Linked DNA regions of Homo sapiens. The protein of the gene in region 1 purifies or fractionates together with the protein of each later gene. This does not show direct contact. Each region holds a gene or a part of one and is shown on either strand. Other genes may lie near its edges.

What was found.
Region 2: the proteins of CCDC12 (region 1) and DHX35 purify together in Homo sapiens (affinity purification with mass spectrometry; one large-scale study listed by BioGRID and IntAct). This does not show direct contact.
Region 3: the proteins of CCDC12 (region 1) and CWF19L1 purify together in Homo sapiens (affinity purification with mass spectrometry; one large-scale study listed by BioGRID and IntAct). This does not show direct contact.
Region 4: the proteins of CCDC12 (region 1) and NUB1 purify together in Homo sapiens (affinity purification with mass spectrometry; one large-scale study listed by BioGRID and IntAct). This does not show direct contact.

What each region holds. Positions count from the first base shown.
Region 1 is NC_000003.12:46,970,234-46,973,848, reverse strand, and holds part of CCDC12 (coiled-coil domain-containing protein 12), read left to right. Parts: intron 1-3,615.
Region 2 is NC_000020.11:39,024,729-39,028,343, forward strand, and holds part of DHX35 (probable ATP-dependent RNA helicase DHX35), read left to right. Parts: intron 1-501; coding exon 502-631; intron 632-3,615. UniProt on the Homo sapiens protein: May be involved in pre-mRNA splicing.
Region 3 is NC_000010.11:100,264,839-100,269,196, reverse strand, and holds the start of CWF19L1 (CWF19-like protein 1), read left to right. Parts: upstream 1-1,558; 5' UTR 1,559-1,603; coding exon 1,604-1,626; exon of another isoform or gene 1,627-1,671; intron 1,672-4,358.
Region 4 is NC_000007.14:151,372,697-151,375,880, reverse strand, and holds part of NUB1 (NEDD8 ultimate buster 1), read right to left. Parts: exon of another isoform or gene 1,785-3,184; coding exon 1,638-1,784; exon of another isoform or gene 34-1,637; coding exon 1-33. UniProt on the Homo sapiens protein: Specific down-regulator of the NEDD8 conjugation system. Recruits NEDD8, UBD, and their conjugates to the proteasome for degradation. Isoform 1 promotes the degradation of NEDD8 more efficiently than isoform 2.

The DNA of each region.
Region 1 (3,615 bases):
CGAAGTCAGGAGATCGAGACCATTCTGGCTAACACAGTGAAAACCTGTCTCTATTAAAAATACAAAAAATTAGCCGAGCGCGGTGGTGGGCGCCTGTAGTCCCAGCTACTTGGGAGGCTGAGGCAGGAGAATGACGTGAACCTGGGAGGCGGAGCTTGCAGTGAGCTGAGATGCGCCACTGCACTCCAGCCTGGGCGACAGAGTGAGACTCCATCTCAAAAAAAAAAAAAAAAAAGAAAAGAAGAAACATGGGAGTACAGATACCTGTTTGAGTATCTGCTTTAAATTCTTTTGGGTAGATAGCCAGAAGTGGAATTACTGGATCATATGGTAATTCTTGTTTTTTTTTTTTTGAGATGGAGTTTCGCTCTTGTTGCCCAGGCTGGAATGCAATGGTGCAATCTCAGCTCACTGCAGCCTCCGCCTCCTGGGTTCAAGCAATTTTCCTGTCTCAGCCTCTCGAGTAGCTGGGATTAATTTTTTTTTTTTTTTTTTGAGATGGAGCTTCGCTCTTGTTGCCCAGGCTGGAGTGCGATGGCACGATCTCAGCTCACTGCAACTTCCACCTCCTGGGTTCAAGCGATTCTCCTGCCTTAGCCTCCCCAGTAGCTGGGATTACAGGTGTATGCCACCACGCCCAGCTAATTTTTTATTTTAGTAGAGACAGGGTGTCACCATGTTGGTCAGGCTGGTCTCAAACTCCTGACCTCAGGTGATCCACCCACCTCGGCCTCCCAAAGTGCTGGGATTACAGGCGTGAGCCACCACACTGGGCCTTTTTTTTTTTTTTAAATTCGGGTGATGTCAGGTGAGGAGAAGGGAGATCAGTCTCAAATCTGTCTTTTCGACGAACTAAAATCAGGGGTTTATATAGCAGGGAGAGGAATGTAATTATGTGTAGGGAAAACAGCTGGATCATATGATAATTCTGTTTAGCTTTTTGAGGAAACACCATAGTGTTTTCAGTAGTGGCTGCACCATTTACATTCCCAGCAGCAGTGTGCAAGGCTTCCAGTTTCTCCACATCCTCCCCAGCACTTATTATTTTATTTTCTTTCTTTCTTTTTTTTTTTTTAAAGGAGTCAGGAGTCTCACTGTGTTGCCCCAGGCCGGTCTTGAACTCCTGGGTTCAAGTGATCCTCCTGCCTTGGCCTCCAAAAATGCTAGGATTACAAGTGTGAGCCACCAAGCCCAGCCATCTTCTTTTTTCGTTTTTTTAATTATAACCTTCCTAATGGGTGTGAAGTGGTGGTATCCCATTGTGGTTTTGATTTGCATTTCCCCAGTGATGAGTGATGTTGAACATCCTTTCATATGCTTGTTTGCCACTTGTATATATATTTTCTTTGAAGAAGTATCCAGATTCCTTTTGCCCATATTTTTAATTGGGCTCTTTTTCTTGTTATTGAGTTGTCATTGAATTGTTCATATATTCTGGATATTAAATCATTATTAGAGATGAGATTAGTGATATTTTTTCCCATTCTCTGGATTATCTTTTCATTCTCTTAGTAGTGTCATTTTTTTAAAAATTAATTTTTTGTAGAGATGGGGGTCTCACTGTGTTTCCCAAGCTGATCTCAAACACCTGGCCTCAGGCAGTCCTCCTGCTTTGGCCTCCCAAAGTGTTGGGATTACAGGTGTGAACCACCGCACCTGGTGGATAGTCTCATTTGCTGCGCAAAGAGTTTAAAATTTGATGAAGTTCAATTTATCTGTTTTTGATTTTGTTGCATGTATTTTTAGTGTCATATTTAATCCCTATAGTTCTTGAGTGATTTTTTTTATTAAGGTGAATGCCTGGGGACAGGACAGGTAAGGGTCTAACCTTTGAGTTGATTTTCCAGCCTGTGGCCCTTTCTGCTGGACCTTTTAAGTGGGGAGTCTGGTGAGGAAGTATGACTGCCTGCTGTGGCCAGATAAAACCCCTTGAGTCTCCTCCTTCAGAGAGGAAGCGGCTTCACATTTTTAGTTCAGGTTTCTGATGTGACAACAGACACCAGGATTGAGCACCTTCTCTGCCTGCACTTGGAGAGCACCTGTCTGCCCCATGAGGATGGCATCTTGCTGGTTTCCTAGCACTCAGTGGCAGGTCCTTCATTGAGTTCTTACTGTGGGCATGGTTTTGCTGGAGGCCTTAGGAATTTCAGGCATGGAGTTGGTTTTCCTCACAGTTTTATCTTTCTTCCTAACTCTCACCAGACTATAAACTCATAATTTAGTGATATTAAGACAATTCAGGGTCCTGAGGTTGTGGCAGATGGAAAGAGACAAGATTAGGGGTTGCAATGTTTCCGTGTATTATTCTGCGCAAAACTCTCTTGTAGTCATGCAGCTGTAGTTTTACAAAGACGTCCTGGTCAGCCCACCTGATGCCACTTATTAGTGAGAGGAGCAAGGCAAGAGGCTGAGGAGAGCTGGGATGTCCAAGGCTGAGGAGGGGAAGTAATGTCTCCTGGATTCCAGGATTCCAGCCCATGCAAGACCCCCTGGGGGAAGGGGATTCTGTAGAGGACACAGCACTGCCTGAAGCAGCATCTTGTAGGTCAGCCAGTTCCCGTTGACACGCAGAAAGACAGTACTGCTGGGGTTCATTTTCTGGGAAAGCCAGGCAGAGCCTGAGGAAGCTTCATGGGAAGGCAGCATGGAACTTGAGCTGAGCCACGGAGGATGGGGAAGTGGGAGAAGGTCATCGAGGTAGCTGGAAAGGAGAGTGTTCCCAGGGAGCATTTTAGAGGTGGGAACATTCAGGTGCATAGAGGTGAGAGTGGAGATGCTCCAGGGAGTTTGACAGCAAGCACTTGGCAGTGATACAGGGGCAGGGGTACAGTCTGAAAGTGCTGGACTGGGGTACTCTGGTAGCCAAGTTTTGCAAGAGCCAGGGTTTCCAGCAGGGATGGTAGCCAGCCTGGGCACACTTTTCTGTATTGTATTTGAACCTCATTTCCTGATGCTCATCCAGAAGTTCCTGGCTGGGTGAGTAGGTGAACAGTTCAAGGCTGTGTGGATGAAACTCTGGCATCTCTTTACAGTGCTGTCCGGCAGGGCAGTGTGAGGCCACTCTGTCCTCCTTTGACCTCTTTCTTCTTCAGCAGCCAAATGGAGGCTCTCTAAAGGTGATGATTAACTTGGCATAAACATGCCAAGCTTTCCTGAGCGATTGCCCTGAATTGGGCTGTCTCTTGCTGCTCTGAGACAGGGAGACTGGCTGTCTGGCTGACCAGCCCTTGGGGCTGAGGTCTGGCTGTCAAGTTGCAGGTTCCAGGCAACCAGCAATTCCTGGTTGTCACCTGGCTCTAGAGATTAGAGCAGCAGTGTTGCTCACTAGAACTTTGTGCAGTGATAGTGTTCTTTAATCTGCACTGTCTAGTACTGTAGCCATGGGCCACCTGTGACTTTCAAGCCCTTGAAATGTGGCTACCGGCCAGGCACAGTGGCTCATGCCTGTTATCCAGGGGTGTCCAATCTTCTGGCTTCCCTGGGCCACAATGGAAGAAGAATTGTCTTGGGCCACACATAATATGCAGTAACACTAATGATAGCTGATGAGCTTTAAAAAAAAAATCACAAAAAATATCTCATAATGTTTTAGGAAAGTTTACGAATTTGTGTTGG
Region 2 (3,615 bases), on another chromosome or scaffold:
TCTAAGACATAATGATCATACTTATGAATGCAGAAAAAATTAAATACTGTTGATAGAAAAATCATGCTTTGGGGACAAATAATAGTAATTTGTAAATTATTTCTACATTGGCAAGTGTCATATTGTTGGCTTCTAGTATAATAAAGTGATACATTCAAGCATGCCAAAGAAGAAAAGTTGATTTACAAAGAACCACGTGGAGAAATGGTTCTTTCTGATAGTTCACATCTCATGAAGGTATGTAAGATTGAAACCGTTTCTGCGTGTCATTAAGTTCTCATTTGCCCTTTAGTGTAAAGAGTGAGGTTGCAGAGCAGTCAGATGTGTGCAAGGTTGTTAACATCTGTTTTGAGAGATGGGGCAAAAAAGGGCCAGTTCCCATCTTTAGATCTTATGCCGTTGAACAGCACATGGGGGAAGAGAGAAGAATGATCTTTACAACATAGCCTTAGTCGAGAACATATCTGTTTTCTAACTCCCTCTCTCTGGGTTGTTCTGTAGCACAATAAGGACTCTAAATGGTGTCAGGAACATTTCCTGAATTACAAGGGTCTTGTCAGAGCTGCGACTGTAAGAGAACAATTGAAAAAGCTTCTTGTCAAGTTTCAAGTGCCCAGGAAGTCTAGTGAAGGTGAGAAGAAACCGTCCCAGCTGGTGACCTCCCTTGCTTCATTCTGTTGAGTTGTCTTCCTAAAGTTCTCATGCTGGGCTGGTGCGAGGCAGTGTGGCGTGCTCTGTACCAACACTGGGTTTTATATTTTGAGTTGCCTGCATCTGTGAAAAGCTGAAGGTCAAGTTGCGTATTTTTTCCAAGGAGGTCTATTTTTCTTTCTGATGGGCATTCTTACTAAAGGAATTTCATAGCCCATGACAATACTTAAGAATCACTAACAGTCACATCAGTGCACATCATGTCATTGATTTTCCCATGTAGGCTTTGCAAGAAAAATTACTTTTTGATCAGTGATATTAGTAGCTATTACATAAAAATTAAATTTTATATTCAAAGACAAGTATTATTAAAGCAAGTGCTGGATATTTAGCCTAGGCAGCCACTAAAGGTAAGACAGAAAAGTACTATGTAAGACGTAGTCTCTGGCCTCTAGCAGTGACAGTGACTACTATTAATCAGGGACACAGTAGGTTACGCTGTGGCAGGGGTTCTCCAAATATTCTCTTGCTCAATCTCGCACTCTGTGAGGTGTCGGTAATGTTATCCTCATTTTACAATTAGTCGTAAGATCCTAGGGAGAAGGTAGATTAAATTCAGGACCACGCAACTGGTAAGGAGGAGAGCCAGATCTGTATGTGGCTCAGAAGTCTACGCTTTTAAGGAAGTGACACACCCGCCTCAGCAGTCAGCCTGAAAGCCTAGTGTGCCAGGTACTCAGCCACATCCTCAGCACCATTAGTACTTGGTAACATTTCCTGAGTGCTTATAAGTGGCTAGACAGTGCACTGAGTGTTCCATGTGTTTATTAATTTAATGCTCACAACAACGCTGTGAAACGTGTGCTCTTTTCCCCATCTTATAGGTGAGAAAAGCGTGGCTAAGAGGTAAAATGTAACTTGCTGAAGTTACACAGTGAGGGTATGATGGAGTCAGAACCTGAGCCCAGGCGGTTCCATTTAAGTCTTCTTTTGTCTTTATACTAAGAGCAAGTGATTAAACAATGACGGAGTCTTGGCTTTTACTCTAAGGGAACAGTGTAATGAAGGGAGAGATTCATATGGATAGACAAAGTACTAAGATTATCAGTCCTCTTCGAAGTTAAAGTAGTAGATACTTTAGTAATCATAGAAGACGTGCTGGCAGATGTGGAAGGAATGCCGGGAAGAAGGAATCCAGAGAGGGCTAGCTTGGGAAGTCTTTCAGCTTCCTTGAGGTGTGGTGGGAGTCCGGTCAAGCTTTGGGGTCTGGTTGAATTAGAAAATGGTGGCAAAGAGCACTCTAGGGAAGGAGGACTGGAGACAAGTGCTTGGAGTGAGGAGTATATGAGACGCTCAGAGAATATTTGATGGGTGAATACACTCACGAGAGAGGGAAGAGTTGAAACCTGGGCCATTGAGCCATGTTGGAGTCATTGATAGAAACAGGATGCTTACAAGGAGCACCTAGTTGGAGAGCAGCTCGTCAAACGCCTGTCACCCAGCAGGTAGATGACAGCCTTACTTCAGCAATTGGTGTTCTTCACCTGTGTTTCATTATCAGACCCCTGCCCAGGAGAAAAGTTAAATTTAAATTCTACCCAGCCTGAGAAATTAAATACTAAGGAATAAGATTTTGTAGGGTAGGATTGAGCTTTGGAGGGCTACCGGCCATTGTAGTGTCTAAGATGCTCCCCTCCCCCTGCCTCCAAGAACCAGTTTCCACCCCTTTGGAAGTGATATCACCCCTGTTTAGAGTGCATATTTTACATGGAAATTTCTTATGGACAATAGGAGAGAAGAGACTGGATATCGGATTAGATCATATTTAGACATGTAGATTTGAGATTTTATCAGCTCAGTGCTTAGGAAAAATACAGAAAATCATGGAGACTAAATAAATTACATGCAAATTTAAAACATCTAAGGGTTAAAAAATAGAAAGCAATTAGTGAAAGATACTTTCAGCAGTCATGAGATAAATGATAAAGATTAAAAACTTTATTATAGAATGATTTTATTTAATATATTTAGGAAAAAACAGTTTTCAGGTTGATAAATGGGCTAAGGATTAGAACAAAAAATTCACAAAAGAAGAAATATGCCGATAGTAATCAAATAAATGTAATATAAAAGAAGGTAACAGAAGGTAACACTTTTTGCCAAAACATTGCTAGTAAGAATGCAGTGAAACTGCCATTTTTATATATTGTTGATGGCTTTGGAAATAGTACCACCTTTATGGAACTTACTTACCAACATGCTTTATTCCATTGGATCTAAGATACCATCATGTGTAAGAAACATCGTTATTTTATGTGTCACCAAAGAAAAAAAATGCTGCCAGTTATCATTGTAAAATGCTGTCCTAATTTCAGTGAATTAAAGTTAGAAAAAGAGCGAGTCTTAAAATTGATGAGATGTGATATGTCATTAACCATAAAAATAACATTAGCCTTTTGCACAACAATTTGGAATGTATCCTATGGACATCATCTAATAGTGGGGAAGCTTTATTCATGGAAGATGTTAGCTGTAGCAATAGAAACACCAGTTAAAATGGAACATTTGAAAAATTTGAAGAATTACTTCAATTTTCAAACACTAGCTCATAACCACAGAAGTAACGTTGTATACTATCTCCAGTTTGTGTTTTATAGAAAGAACATTGTTGCCATATGACACTCTTTTACAAAGGAGTTCTGAGGTCACTGACCAGCCTGCAGAGCAGCACTCTTAGGTTCTGGTGCCCAGCCATGGTCCAGTCATCTGTGGCTTAGGGGAGGTTGGAGGGGTCCCAGGTTCAAGGAGCAGACCAGCATTGTTGTCAGCAGCAGTTGTGGGGAGTGGGACCTCCTTAGATGGTGCTGGGGCAGGCATCCAGCATTGGGAAGGGTAGGGCTGGAGCCATTTCAGGAGAGGGTTTCCAGGTGTCTTGAAGCAGCCTGGGGTGGTGCTGGGAGTGGA
Region 3 (4,358 bases), on another chromosome or scaffold:
TGTTCTCAAGTGAACCTCCCGCCTCAGCCTCCCAAAGTGCTGGGATTACAGGCATGAGCCACTGTGCCTGGCCTGTAGTTCTTCTTTAATCTTATGTTTTATTAATTTTGAATTATTTAGATGCCCTTGATGAGTCTTCCTTTCCCCGCAGTCGTCAGGAACTCTCTCTTGTTTCCATTTCCTTACACACTTGTTTCCTACCACTTGGCCTGAACCCTTCAAAAAAGTCAATATTACAAAAACTAAAACCAAATAGGTAGGAGGGCTTTTGTAGATTAAAATAGAGACAGAACCAAATGCAAGTGTGAAACTTGATTGCATCTGAATCAAAACAAGCCCCAAATATAAAATCAGTTTGTAGGGAAATATGGAGAACTTTAAATATGGATGTATATTAGGTAATATTATTGAATAATTAATGTTAATTTTCTTAGCTGTGTTAATAGTATTACGGTTATGTAGGAGGATATCCTAATCTTAGGAGATAAATGGAGATGTATTCCTGTTGTCCGCACTTTATTTTATTTTATTTTTTGACACGGAGTCTCGCTCTGTCGCCCAGGCTGGAGTGAAGTGGCGCGATCTCGGCTCACTGCAACTTCCTCCTCCTGGGTTCAAGCGATTCCCCTGCCTCAGCCTCCCGAGTAACTGGGACTGCAGGTGCGTGCCACCACGCCCGGCTAATTTTTTGTATTTTTAGTAGAGAGGGGGTTTCACCGTGTTAGCCAGGATGGTCTGGATCTCCCAAAGTGCTGGGATTACAGGCGTGAGCCACTGCGCCCGGCCTGTACTTTACTTTCAAATGATTGAGTGAGAATGGAAGGGCTTGGGCACTTTGAGAGAAAGAGAACACAAGCAAATTTGCCAACATGCTGAGACTTACTGAATCAAGGTAATAGCCATTATTCTTTTAACTTTTTTTTTTTTAATTTGAGACGGAGTTTCGCTCTTGTTGTCCAGGCTGGAGTGCAATGGCGCGATCTTGACTCACTGCAACCCCCGCCTCCCTGGTTGAAGCAATTCTCCACCATGCCCGGCTAATTTTTGTATTTTTAGAAGAGACGGGGTTTCACCATGTTGCCCAGGCTGGTCTTGAACGCCCGACCTCAAGTGATCCGCCCGCCTCAGCCTTCCAAAGTGCTGGGATTATAGGCGTGAGCGTCCACGCCCGGCCTCTTAACTTTTTGATAGGTTAAAAACTTACAAAAAACGTGGATAGAGGGGGTCTGTCTTGCCCACTAGACCGATATGGTTAGGTTAGGTTAGGTTAGGTTAGGTTAGGTTAGAACCCGACATTGTGCTCTGTACTTCCTAGCCATTCATTCGCTTCAAGTGCTCTGAAATTTAATTTAAAAAATCATAGTTGGAATCCTTTCGGTCACTTTCTCTTTCTCCCTTCGTTCCTCCCTTTCCCTCTTGATTCTTCCTTGAGGCGCAAACACCTGAGAGAGGCTTCTGTCCCTCGGCGGTCTCCGTAAGTAAGTGAACCGTTATTGGCTGGAGGGCGCTGACGTCTGATTGTTGCGCGGTCGCATTTTTCCGGGGAGCGCGGATTCGCATTCCCAATTTTAGGTGGCAGTCGCAACCCATACTATTCGGACAGATGGCACAGAAACCGCTGCGCCTGTGAGTGACCGTGAATGGAAGCCTCTCTCCCTGTGTCTCTTTCGTGTGTGTAGGTGACGACACGGGCGGGAGTCTTTCCCATGACGGGAAGGGAGAAGGAAAAGGCGGAGAGACACGGGGCTGCTGGGGAGCTTAGGTGATGTCTTTGCCTGGCCGGGGCTGACCTCTTTTCCTGGCCCTTTTCGCTTCTGAGGGGGTTTCTCTTGGCGACGCTCGTTCGGAGAGGCGGAAGCTCCCAGAGTTAGGCCTCCTCCATCTTAGGGGGCAGTCCTGGCCTCTGACACATCCTTTCCCCTTCGTTTCTCCTGACCCCATTTATTTACTCGCCAAATAGCCATTGGGCCCACTGATGGGCCCTGGGCAGTGGTGGACAGAGTAGATAGGGACCCTTCCCTGGGGCATTTTTTTTTTTTTTTTTTTTTTGCGAGGAGGAGGGGTGGGGGTGGTGGTGAAGAGAGGGCTTCATGCAGCAAGTATTTATTGAAGAACTGCAGTGTGCCGGACGCTGTGCTAGGTGTTGCAACAGATGGAGTTCCTGCTTTAATGGAGCGTAGAGTCTAGAGGAACAGGTACTAAAGAATCCAGATAATGGGCCGGGCGCGGTGGCTGAGGCAGGAGAATCGCTTGAACCCGGGAGGCGGAGGTTGCTGTGAGCCGAGATCGCGCCACTGCACTCCAGCCTGGGCGACAGAACGAGACTCTCAAAACAAAACAAAACAAAACAAAACAAACAAAAAACAATACAAATAATGGCCGGGCGCGGTGGCTCACGCCTGTAATCCTAGCACTTTGGGAGGCTGAGGCGGGCGGATCACTTGCGGTCAGGAGTTCGAGACCAGCCTGGCCAACGTGGTGACACCCCGTCTCTACTAATACAAAAAAAAAAAATTAGCCAGGCGTGGTGGCGCGTGCCTGTAATCCCAGCTACTTGGGAGGCTGAGGCAGGAGAATCGCTTGAACCCGGAGGCGGAGGTTGCACAGTGAGCCGACACTGCACCTCTGCACTCCAGCCTAGGTAACAGAGTGAGACTCCGTCTAAAAAAAAAGGAATTCAGATAAATGTAAAGTTACCATAGTGATAGGGCCAGGCGCAGTGGCTCACGCCTATAATCCCAGCGACTCCGGAGGCCAAGGCAAGAGAATCACTTGAGTCCAGGAATTCAAGACCAGCCTGGGCAATATAGCAAGGCCCCGTTTCTACAAAAAATACAGAAAAAAAAAAAAATTAGCCGGGCGTGGTGGTCCCAGCTAATTGGGAGGCTGAAGCAGGTGGACCACCTGAGCCTGGGGAGGTCGATGCTGCAGTGAGCTGTGATCGTGCTGCTGATCTCCAGGCTGGGTGACAGATTGAAACCCTGTCTCAAAAAAAAAAAAAAAAAAATTGCAATAGTGGTAACTTTTGGGAAGAAAATATTCGTGAATCTGGGAGAGTGCATAAGAGGGGTATTTGGCTTAATGATAGGAGTCAAGAAGGCTTCCCGAGAATGTTAGGATTGAGCCTTGGGAAATAAGAGTAATCCATTGCTTAACAGCAGGGTTATGTTCTGAGAAATGAGTTGGTAGGCGATTTCGTCATTGTGCGAACATCTTTGAGTGTACTTCCAGAGACCTAGATGGTATGGCTTCCTGTACACCTAGGCTAAATGGTATAGCTGTACGTCAAGTTACTGTACTGAATACTGTAGGCAATTGTAACACAATGGTAAGCATTTTTGTATTTAAATATAGAAAGGGTACAGTGAAAACACCTGGCCGGGTGTGGTGGCTTATGCCTGTAATCCCAACACTTTGGGAGGCCGAGGTGGGTGGATCACCTGAGGTCAGAAGTTCAAGACCAGCCTGGCCAACATGGTGAAACCCTGTGTCTACTAAACATACAAAAATTAGCCGGGTGTGGTAGCGGGCGCCTGTAATCCCAGCTACTCAAGAGGTTGAGGCAGGAGAATGGCTTGAGCCTGGGAGGCAGAGGTTGCAGTGAGCCGAGATCGCACCACTGCACTCCAGCCTGGGCGACAGAGCGAGACTGTCTCAAAAAAAAAAAAAAAGAAAAAGAAAAAAAGAAAATACTGTATACAGGAAAAAAAAAAAGGGCACAACCTGTGTAGGACACTTATCATGAATGGAGTTTGCAGAACTGAAAGTTTCTCTGAGTGAGTTAGTAAGAGGTGAGTGAATGTATTACTTTACAGTATTGTAGACTTTATGAATACTGTACACTTCACCTATATTAAATTTATTAAAATATTATTTTCAACAGTAAACCTTAGTTTACTGTAACTTTTACTTTATAAACTTTAAGTTTTTTTACACTTTTTGACTCTTGTTATAACACAGCTAAGACATAAAACACATTGTACAGCTGTACAAAAATATTTTCTTTATATCCTTATTCTACAAGCTTTTTTCTATTACTTTTTTTTTCTTTTTACCTTTTAAACTTTTTTTTTTTTTGGAGACAGGGTCTCACTGTCGCCCAGGCTGGAGTGCAATTGTGCAATCACGGCTCACTGCAACCTCAACCTCCTGGGCTCAAGTGATTCTCCCACTTCAGCCTCCTGAGTAGCTGGGACTACAGGCGGAAGCTACCACACCTGGCTAATTTCTGTATTTTTTGTAGAGAGGGGGTTTTGCTATGTTACCCAGGCTGGTCTTGAACTCCTGGGCTCAAGTTACCCTCCTGCCTCAGCCTCCCAAAGTGCTGGGATTACAGACGTGAGCCACTGTGCCTGGCT
Region 4 (3,184 bases), on another chromosome or scaffold:
TAACCACCACATCTGAGGATTGCTGAGCAGAATCTAAAACACACAGGAACACCCTTTACCCATCACTAAGAACTCTTCACACATTCAGACAGGCGCTGCACCCTGCCATGTGCTAGGCAGACCCCGCCGTCCTCTGCTGCTATGAGGCAGAGAAAGGGGCTCCCACTCAGGCTGGTGTTCACAGAAGGCTTCCAGCCAGAGACCAGGACAGCTGGGGTTTGAAGGAGGAGCAAGACTAGTCAGGGAAAAGATCCCTTCTGTTAGAGCAGGAAGGGATGGAGAGCAGGTGGAAGCAGCATCCAAGAAAACAGGTTTTGTCAGAGCTACAGACAGAAAGGTCTCAAGCAGCTCAGGGCTGCCTGATTGATCTTTGAAAGCGTCATGCCCTCTAGACTTAAAATGTCAGGCAGGTAGTAGGGTTATTTTGACCCTTGATTTCTTCATCACACAATACTTAATCTTCAAAGACCCTGTGGAGACTTTCCTTTCCAACACTCAGTACTTCCATTTTGACTGGAAGTATTTTTGTGCCACTCGTATAATTCACATCTATTTTGAGACCCATCAGTCCCTTCGAATATTCAGAATTTCCCACCTCTTAATATTTCTCCAACACACAAAAAAACGAACTAGATGATATTCAAATAAAAATTTAAAATTTAACGTATATGTTAAATATACATGTACATAGTTACAAAAGTACTGACTTGTGGAGCCTTCCGGGGAACAGGGCAGGGATAAGAGGCAAAGGCAGGGTGGACTCCCCGTGCCTGCTGCACCCACACCCGCCTCAGCAGGGCAAACGAGGACACCTGCCCTGCACCCCACCCCCTCCAACCCCATCTCTGTCCCCCCAGCCCCGCCCCCAGCACGTGCACAACCTAAGCCAGCTCCTACCACTCTGCTTCCTGCCCGCCGCGCTGCCCCAGCATCTGTCTGGACTGCTGCCTCCACACAGCCAGCCCCCTGCCTCCTGTGCACCCCCTCGGGACCCCTCACCACGTGTGCTCTGAGTTTGTCTCTCACTGACCTGCGGGGCCGAGAGGGCAGAGGGTGGTTCCATGCCAAGCTGCTGAGACGCAGCGCAGCACCTGCCCTACTGAGGATTCGATATGCTTCTCCAACACAGGGAAGGAAGTGGCCCAGGTAAAGTCACTGCTGTCTGGATCCCAACCTGCTGTCACTCCTGAGGGGTTCTTTGAAAAGCTCTCCCTTTGCCAACATGTACGATGGACTAAATAAATAAAACTAGATACTTACATTTAAAATTTTAATGCCAAACAATTATACTACAAGTTGAATTCCCATTCTCTTTTTTCTGCCGTGGAAACTGCCTGTTTCACTAAACTCTGCTGCACACAGAAACCCTACACAAAGTCCTGGCCTGTGGACTGTGCTGGTGTGGACAGGCACCACGTTTTGGAGCCAGGCCTGGGCCAAGCACTGAGCATGGGGCCTCACGTGGCCTCACGCAGCCTGTGTCTGGGCTGGAGCCCAGGAGAAACCTGCCCTTCAGATCCGGATGACGGGGCAGCCCATAGGAGTGAGCCCGGGAGGATGCTGGAGAGCCATGGAGGGAGCTCTGGGCAGGACCCACTGCTCAGGGACAAGGCCAGAGGCCCCGAGGGAGCTGCTACCTTCAGGGCCTCATCCAAGTTCCCGCTGGCTGCGTGGAGTACCTGCTGGGCCGCGTGCGTGGAGTAGCCCATCCCTTTCAGAAACCTGATGTTCTCGAGGCGGCGTCTTTTCTTCTCTTTTTCCTCCTTCCTTATTTGGGCCAGTTCCTTTAGGAAAACAGCAAAGTCCCATCCCAAGTTAGGGACTGAGATTTCACAGCCTCTCAGTCTGCGCTCTGCAGGATTCTCCGCATTTCCAGGCAAAGCCAAAAAACCAAAGCAAAGCACAGGGGGCCCTCTTTCTACCTCTCCTCACCCAGCCAAATGGCAGAGGTGCCACAGAGGCAGAGGGGTGGTGGAAGTGCTGCTTCTGAGGCAGGCAGTGGAAGTGAGATGCCCGTGGGGCAGGAAGGAGGTGCCTCGCCAGCCCCGCCATCCACCATCCGGCATCAGGATGGGCTGCTCGCCAACCCAGCACTCCCACTGCAGAGGTCGCGGGTGTGAGGTGCATGGATTCTCTTCTAGGAACCAGGTAGGAACCGGGTAGGAGAGCTTCTGCACGCGGTGGGAAGGCCTTCCAGCCTTCGATGAATCGCCCAGGGATTCAAGTTAAAATGTGATGTGGAATCAGGGGCTCCTGGGCAATGCCAAAGCTGGTGACCCGCCCCCCACAGCCTGGGGAGCAAGGACTCCAGGGCCTTCTGAGGCCTGTCATTCCATTCGGAACCCACAGAGTGCCCAGAGACAAAGGTCATCTAACCTCTTGGTTCTCAACCCTGTTTCTCAGAGTTGCCTGCTATTGCTGCAGGAGCGCAGGACGGCTGCAGAGGGTTCTAGTCTCTTCACCTCTCCCACCCAGGGCCAATCAGGAGAGTTCCCAATTTATTTTGTAAACTAGTATCCCCATAAAAATGTCATTTAAAAAGGGGATTTTGCTGCTTAAAAACAACAACAACAAAGCAAGTTTGAAAACCAGGAATTTAATCCAACCTCATTATTTTCCCAACAAGGAGACAGAAAGCTTTCAACAAAGTTAAGTGACTTGCTACATTCTCCCAGGGAGACCAGCCCCACCATCAGCAGCAGCGAGGACGGGGGAGAAAACAGACTCCTTCCTTCCAGAGACCTGATCCTGCCTCCTGCCCAGCCCAGGCAACAGGCGCCTCCCTGCATTTTCCCCACAGCAGGAAAGCGGCCTCATCTCTTAGGAAAACAAAAGCATCATCATTGTGGAACCAGACTCCACAGGCCCCACAGTAGGAGCAGGCAGAACAGAGTGGCTGCTGGAAACATCTCCAGGGATGAAGACATCTGTAGACTCATGGCCTGTCTCTATCACAGGAGAACCTCCTGGTGTGGCCCTGGAGTGCCCACAGCGCCAGCTCCCTTTGCTTCCCCTTCAGCTGCACCAGGCCTGTCTCATGCCCCCATTACGTGCTCTACCTCTCAGTGGCCAGTCTCCCCCAGCTCCAGCCCCGCTGCACAGGGCAGCAGGCTCCGTCATTCCAGTCACCTACCTGAAAGCCCGCAGCAGCTCCTGACCACCTCCCCACACTGAGGCACCAGCT